Homo sapiens: one gene and its partner. The protein of the gene in region 1 purifies or fractionates together with the protein of each later gene. This does not show direct contact. Each region holds a gene or a part of one and is shown in the gene's direction. Other genes may lie near its edges.

What was found. The genes of interacting proteins can lie anywhere in the genome.
Region 2: the proteins of CMSS1 (region 1) and PCDH7 purify together in Homo sapiens (affinity purification with mass spectrometry; 3 studies listed by BioGRID and IntAct, with this or other methods). This does not show direct contact.

The regions. Positions count from the first base shown.
Region 1 is NC_000003.12:100,177,747-100,181,501, forward strand, and holds part of CMSS1 (protein CMSS1), read left to right. Parts: intron 1-558; coding exon 559-642; 3' UTR 643-3,755.
Region 2 is NC_000004.12:31,136,359-31,140,113, forward strand, and holds part of PCDH7 (protocadherin-7 isoform d precursor), read left to right. Parts: intron 1-3,755.

The DNA.
Region 1 (3,755 bases):
CAAGGTGGGAGGATTACTTGAAGCCAGGAGTTCGAGACCCGCCTGGACAACAAAGCAAGACCCTGTCTCTACAAAACAATAATAATAATAGGCCAGGCACAGTGACTCACACCAGTAATCCCAGCACTTTGAGAGGCCAAGGCAGGTGGATCACTTGAGGCCAAGAGTTCAAGACCAGACTGGCCAACATGGCAAAACCCTGTCTCTACTAAAAATACAAAAATTAGCCAGGTATCATGGCACACACCTCTAATCCTAGCTACTCAGAAGGCTGAAGCATGAGAATCACTTGAACCTGGGAAGCAGAGATAGCAGTTAGCCGAGATCACGCCACTGCACTCCAGCATGGGCAACAGAATGGGACTCTGTCTCAAAATAATAATAATAATAATTTTAAAAATTTCAACTCTGAATCAAATGTGTGTTAGGACTTTTGCACTCTCTGATTCTGGCCATAACAGCTGGGTAAATATCAGGGAGTCCTGATGGTTGAATGTATTCACCAAGACCATTTTGGCTTGATCTTAATCTTTTTTTCCCCCCTTTTCTCTCATTTAGATAAGAAAGGAGGTATTCGAACTTCTGGAAATGGGAGTGCTCAGTCTGTGCAAGTCAGAATCCTTGAAACTGGGCCTTTTCTAAGTCTGTGTCCTAATGAAGATTCCAGTTTTCACAGTAGAAGTTGCATCTTATTTAATGACTCTGATACATTGCAAGCACTCAGTAAATATCAGCAAATAGTTTATGTTAATTGTGTCAACAGATGGATCACTGGAATGTGGGGATTCTGAAACAGAAATGAAACTGTCCTTTTGACAACTCTCTTATATAATAAAGTATCACCGGCTTGTGTATGATCCTTGTTGAGCGGACCGTGTTTTTCTGTCACCAACTGGCTTCTGATGTAACTGTGCAGGAGAAAGGAAAGAGCAGCTGGGTGACCTTAGGCAAGCGTAAGGTCTTGCCTCTCTGAGCCCCATCTTATCAACTCAAAGTGGGAATGTCTCACAGCATTGTTGAGGATTCCAGGAGATAGTACATGGGGAGCAGATTTGTAAACTCTGAGGCATGGTCCCAGCAAAAAGGGTGGCAGGTATATTAATCCATTCTCACATTGCTATAAAGAACTACCCGAGACTGGGTAGATTATAAAGAAAAGAGGTTTAATTGACTCACAGTTTCACAGGCTGTACAGGAGGCATGGCTGAGAGGCCTCAGGAAACTTGGCAGAAGGTGAAGGGGAAGCAAGCACATCTTCACATGGCGACAAGAGAGCAAGAGAGTGAAGGGAGAAATGCCACACACTTTTAAACGACTAGATCTTGTGAGAACTCACTCCCTATCATGAGAACAGCAGAACAGCAAGGGGAAAATCTGTCCCTATGATCCAGTCACCTTCCACCAGGTCCCTCCCCCAACATTGGGAATTATAATTCAACATAAGATTCGGGTGGAGACACAGAGCCAAACCATGTCAATTCCACCCCGGCCTCTTCCAAATTTCATGTTCTTCTCACATTTCAAAACACAATCATGCCTTCTCAACAGTCCCCCAAAGTCTTAACTCATTCCAGCATTAACTGAAAAGTCCAACTCCAAAGTCTGATCTGAGACAAGGCAACTTCCTTCCACCTATGAGCCTGTAAAATAAAAAACAAGTTAGTCATTTCCAAGATACAATGGAGGTACAGGCATTGGGTAAATGCTCCCATTCCAAGTGGGAGAAACTGGCCCAAAGGAGCTAAAGGCCTCATGCCAGTTTGAAACCCAGCAGGGCACTCTTTGAATCTTAAAGCTCCAAAATAATCTTTGACTCCATGTCTCACATCCAGGCCACTCTGATGCAAGGAGTGGGCTCCCAAGGCCTTAGGCAGCTCTGCCCCTGTGGCTCTGCAGGGTACAGTCCCCATGGTTGCTTTCACAGGCTGGTGTTGAGTGCCTACAGCATATCCAGGTACACAGTGTAAGCTGTCAGTGGATCTACCATTCTGGGGTCTGGAGGATGATGGCTCTCTTCTCACAGCTCCACTAGGCAGTGCCCCAGTGGGGACTCTGTGTAGGGTCTCCAACCCCACATTTCCCCTCTGCACTGCCCTAGTAGAGGCTCTCCATGAGGGCTTCACCCCTGTAGCAGACTTCTGCCTGGACATCCAGGCGTTTCCATACATCCTCTGAAATTGAGGCAGAGGCTCCCAAACCTCAGCTCTTGCCTTCTGCACACCCATAAGCCCAACAGCACGTGGAAGCTGCCAAGGCTTGGGGCTTGCACCCTCTGAAGCAATGGTTCAGCTGTACCTTGGCCCCTTTTAGTCACAGCTGGAGCTGGGGCAGCTGGGAATTAGGCTGCCATGTCCTAAGGCTGCACAGAGCAGCTGGGCCCAGGGCCTAGCCCACGAAACCATTTTTTTCCTCCTAGGCCTCTGGGCCTGTTTGGTGGGGCTGGGGAGGGCTGCCACGAAGGTCTCTGAAGTGCCCTGGAGGCATTTTATCCATTGTTTTGGCTATTAACATTTGGCTCCTCTTGTGCAAACTTCTGCAGTGAGCTTGAATTTCTCCCCAGAAAATGGCTTTTCTTTTCTACCACATGGTCAGGCTGCAAATTTTCAAGCTTTTATACTCTGCTTTGCTTTTAAATATAAGTTATCTCTGCTTATGCAAATGAGCATAGGCTTTTAGAAGCAACCAGGCCACCTCTTGAACACTTTGCTGCTTAGAAATTTCTGCCGGATACCCTAAGTCATCTCTCCCAAGTTCAAAGTTACACAGATCCCTAAAGCAGGGGCACAATGCCACCAGTCTCTGCTAAAGCATAGCAAGAGTGACCTTTGCTCCAGTTCCTGATAAGTTCCTCATCTCCATTTGAGACCACCTCAGCCTGGACTTCATTGTCCATATCACTATCAGCATTTTGGTCAAAACTGTTCAACAAGTCTCTAGGAGGTTCCAAACATCCCTCATATTCCTGTCTTCTTCTGATCCTTCCAAACTGTTGCAACTTCTCCCCGTTACCCAGTTTCAAAGTTGCTTCCACATTTTTTAGGTATCTTTATAGAAATGTCCCACTTCTCTGGTACCAATTTTTTGTATTCTTCCATTTTTACACTGCTATGAAGAACTACCTGAGACTGGGTAGTTTATAATGAAAAGAGGTTTAATTGACTTCCAGTTCCACAGACTGTACAGGAGGATGGCTGGGGAGGCCTCAGGAAATTTACAATCATGGCAGAAGATGAAAGGGATGCAACCACATCTTGTGGCAACAAGAGAGCAAGAGAGTGAAGGGGGAAGTGCTATACACTTTTAAACAATCAGATCTCTTGAGAACTCACTATCATGAGAACAGCAAGGGGGAAATCTGCCCCCATGATCTAATCACCTCCCACCAGATCCCTCCCCCAACACTGGGAATTACAATTCGACATGAAACTTGGGTGGGGACACAGCCAAACCACATCAGCAGGGTAGTGGTAGAAAGAGCATCAAGTGAATTTGGCCCTTTGTAAACGTATAAAAAGACAACAATATAATTACAGCTGTCTTATTAACTTTTTTTTAAAAACTTTCTATTTTGAAACTTCAGGCTTAATAGAAAAGTTTAAAAAATAGAGAATTCCCATATCCCCTTCCCTGAGCTTTCCCTGTGTTAAATTCTTGTATAACCATAATAGAGTTATCAAAACTAAGAAGTCATCACTGGTACTGTATAATTAACTAAACTACAGAGTTTATTTGGATTTCTCCAATTTTTCCACTAA
Region 2 (3,755 bases), on another chromosome or scaffold:
GAAGTCACACAGCTTCTACGTGGTTGAGCCTGGAATCACACTGAGCAATACTGGGACTCTAAATCTCCTGCTCTTTTTAAAAGTTCATTGCTCTTTGCAGGAAGGGCCCAGGAATGGTACAGATGATGCCACAGCAAGGATTGATTGATTAGCCAGTGTTCCTATACTCTTCTATTTTGGTTAAATCAAGTGATCCTGTAATAAATTAAAAAACTCTTTGGAAATCTTAATGGCCTTTTTGTGGCCAGAGTGACACTTACTTAGATAACTATAAATTTCTCCTCTTCCAGAAAGTGTTCCTACATTTAGAGGATCACAAACTGCTGGTCTGAGTCAGTGATTCCCGCCCTGACCGTGAACTGTGATGTGTTTGCCTGTCCAGTCTTCCTAAATTCCCCAAACCGGCAAAAGGCAGGGATATTTTAGTTATTTACGTGAAAAAGCCAAGTCCAACTCACTTGTGCATCTTTTGGATCTTGTCTCCTCACCTCCAATCTTTATTAACTATGATAATAATCATCCAAAAAAAAGTTTTGGTTAACCAGCATTTAATTATTTTTTTCTCAGCCCTATCATATAAAATAAAAGTAAACAATTTTCTAACAGGTATTTTAAAATAAAGCATTTATTTAATCATTTGAGTAAAAGATATTTTCATTTAGACTAATGACAGTGAAGGGAATGTTAAAACATTTGTTGTAAAACATTTTTCACTGATCTTTTGTTTTTCTTGTTTACCCTTTTGTAAAACCTTTTGTAAGTCCACCAAATTTCACTAGCATTTAAGTGTGCTTCTAGAAAAAATAAGTCTTTGTGTAGAGGGAAGTCAAGAAACATAGAAAGAAAACCAAACACTTTAAAAAGGAAAAAAGGAAAAAGTTCCTGCATGTGGTTTTGTTTTGTGTTGTTTTGTTATTTTGTCTCTAAAGGAAAGAAATACCAGGCCGGGAGCAGAGGCTCACGCCTGTAATCCCAGCACTTTGGCAGGCTGAGGAGGGCAGATCCCTTGAGATCAGGAGTTCGAGACCAGCCTGGCCAACATGGCCAAACCTCATCTCTACTAAAAATACAAAAAATTAGCCTGGTTTGGTGGTGCATGCCTGTAGTGCCAGCTACTCAGGAGGCTGAGACATGAGAATCGCTTGAACCCAGGAGGCAGAGGTTGCAATGAGCCGAGATCGTGCCACTGCACTCCAGCCTGGATGACAGAGCGAGACCCTTCTCGAAAAATAAAATAAAATAAAACAAAATAAATAAAAAGAAGAAAATACTTCTTATTTTTTTGCAGATTTTGTCAAGTAATGTTAATCATATGCCAGAGCTTGATGTTAATGAACAAATTGGAGGAATGGTGTGGGCATCTGGGAAGTCCATACGTTGACTTAACAATCCGTTTATCTCACATGGCCAGCAAATTAAATAATATGTGAGTTAAACAAATAAATGATACATACAGTTTTACATATCTGATCTTTAAGAAAACTCATTGGAAATATTTTAATACTAAATATAACATGTTCATACCTTCTCTCAGCAAATGCAAAGATCCATGTATCTCTAGCCTCAAGCCAAGGACCTGGAGTAGAGTGAGTGTCTGGGATTCTGACAGGATGCAAAACTCAGCATACTTAAAATCCTTCCTGGTGCAGAACTGTCTTCAAGTCTTAATGAGTCTACTGTGCTCTCCTATAATAATTTTGTCTCTAATGGGTTCTGAATTATGTAAGGCATCTTCTGGAAACATGAAATTCCTCTCTAAACCTGGGCTTTCCTTGTTATTTCTAAAGATTCTATTATCTATCTGTCACTTCTTGTTGAGGTCATTGTAACAGCATCTAGCAGCATCTGCCCACCACCCATCCATCTACCCTGCCTAGTAAAAACAAAAATACTATGTTTTTGAGAGATAATCTGACTTCTTAAGAAAACATATAATTTTCTCCACTTTCCAAAATGTATAGTTTTAGGGAGGTTGTTTCATTCTTTTCACTAAGTAGTAAAATTTGTGACTCTGTGACATCTATTTCCTGTGCTACTCAGATTTTTTTTTCTCTTTCTCTGCAGACTGTAGCTTGTTCAGATGGTTATGAGTAGCAGTCATTGACCTCTAAATAACTCAGCTGTTATATTTTAAGAAGAAGCAATGGGTTGTAGTGGGAAAACAGTAAATTGAAAGTCAAAACACTTATTCTTCGGCTTCAGCTCTCCCGTAGCTTGGACCCGTTCGCTGTTCCATCCTCCTTGCTATATGATTGAGGTGCTAAATTAAAGAGATGAACTTCATGTGGGAAGTACTTCATGTGTTATGAATTGTTCTAAGATTGTTTGCTAGTTTGATGGCTTAAAAACTGTTACTTTCTCCCAGCACTTTGGGAGGCCAAGGCAGGTGGATCATTTGAGGTCAGAAGTTCAAGACCAGCCTGGTCAACATGGTGAAACCCCATTGTATTTTGAAACAATACAAAAATTAGCCAGGTGGTAGTGGTGCGCGCCTATAACTGTAGCTACTCAGGAGGCTGAGGCAGGAGAATCGCTTGAGCCTGAGAGGCAGAGGTTGCGGTGAGGCAAGATTGCACCACTGCACTCCAGTCTGGGCAACAGAGTGAGATCCTGTCTCAAAAAAAAAAAAAAGAAAAGAAAAAAAACTCTACTTTCAAGAGAGATATTAACCTTATGTCTAGGAAAGGATCTTAACTTTCTAATAAGATGCAATGATTCTAGTAAATAGCATAACTTGGTTAAAATGGAAACCTCTACAAGTAATGCTAAGCAAGAACAGGATTTGATGGATACCATTTTTTTACTTCCAGTCTTCTCAAGGTTTGATATGATTGATGGGGTATGCGGGCGTTGAGAAATACAGAAACAACAACAAAAAATTCTCTAAGGAACTGGCTTTATTGTGGAAAATGCTTACAGAGAATACTATTTTATTTTCCTGTTGTTCATTTGTATTGATTTACTCAATGCCAGCTAAGATTTGTGATCAAGTGTCTTCCATCTTCACTGAGATCAAAATTTAAAACAACAGTACTAAAGCATAAAATAATGTTCTTAGATGTTAGAAAAGACATCCTTCAGTGAAAGACTAAGAAGAGTTACTAATTGTGAAAGGCTTTCCTCTATAATGCCACAAAAAAATAGGACAGTTTAAAAGTATGTCTTTTATGGAAAGAAGAAATAATTGCATGTGATGTTTATCTAAGATCCTGCATAAATTTTGTGTTGAAAAAATTCATAATATATGCATGCATAATTAAAATAAGAAAATATGTAAACAAAGAAAAATACTTTTCCACTCATGCCCTTCTTTAATAAGTTGCATCGTAATACAGATTGCATTTGTTAATCATTGGTATTTCTTTGGAAGATTCACTTTAGTCAACCAAATTGGAAGTTTTGATTGCTTGTGATGAATCTCTTATAGCCCTTCTTGATTATTTTTCTAAATTTGATGACAAACATTGCAACATGTCTCAGCCAATTAGGCTTGTCAACTTCCTCTGTGGTCCCCAATCAAGTGTTTTACTTTGGAAATGACAGGAGATCCTTATTAAAAGTCATGCTTCTTGGATAGAGATGTGGCAGCTTGCATGTATATGATGGCACAGAAGACAAGCTGCCTTTCGTTAAAAGCAATAGAGGAAATCAATTTTGGCAGAAAATACTCCAGACTGTGAAGTAAAGACTGAAGGAAAGAACTGAAGAGCATCTCACTTATAGCTGATTGGAGATTCAGTCAATCTATTTAATAA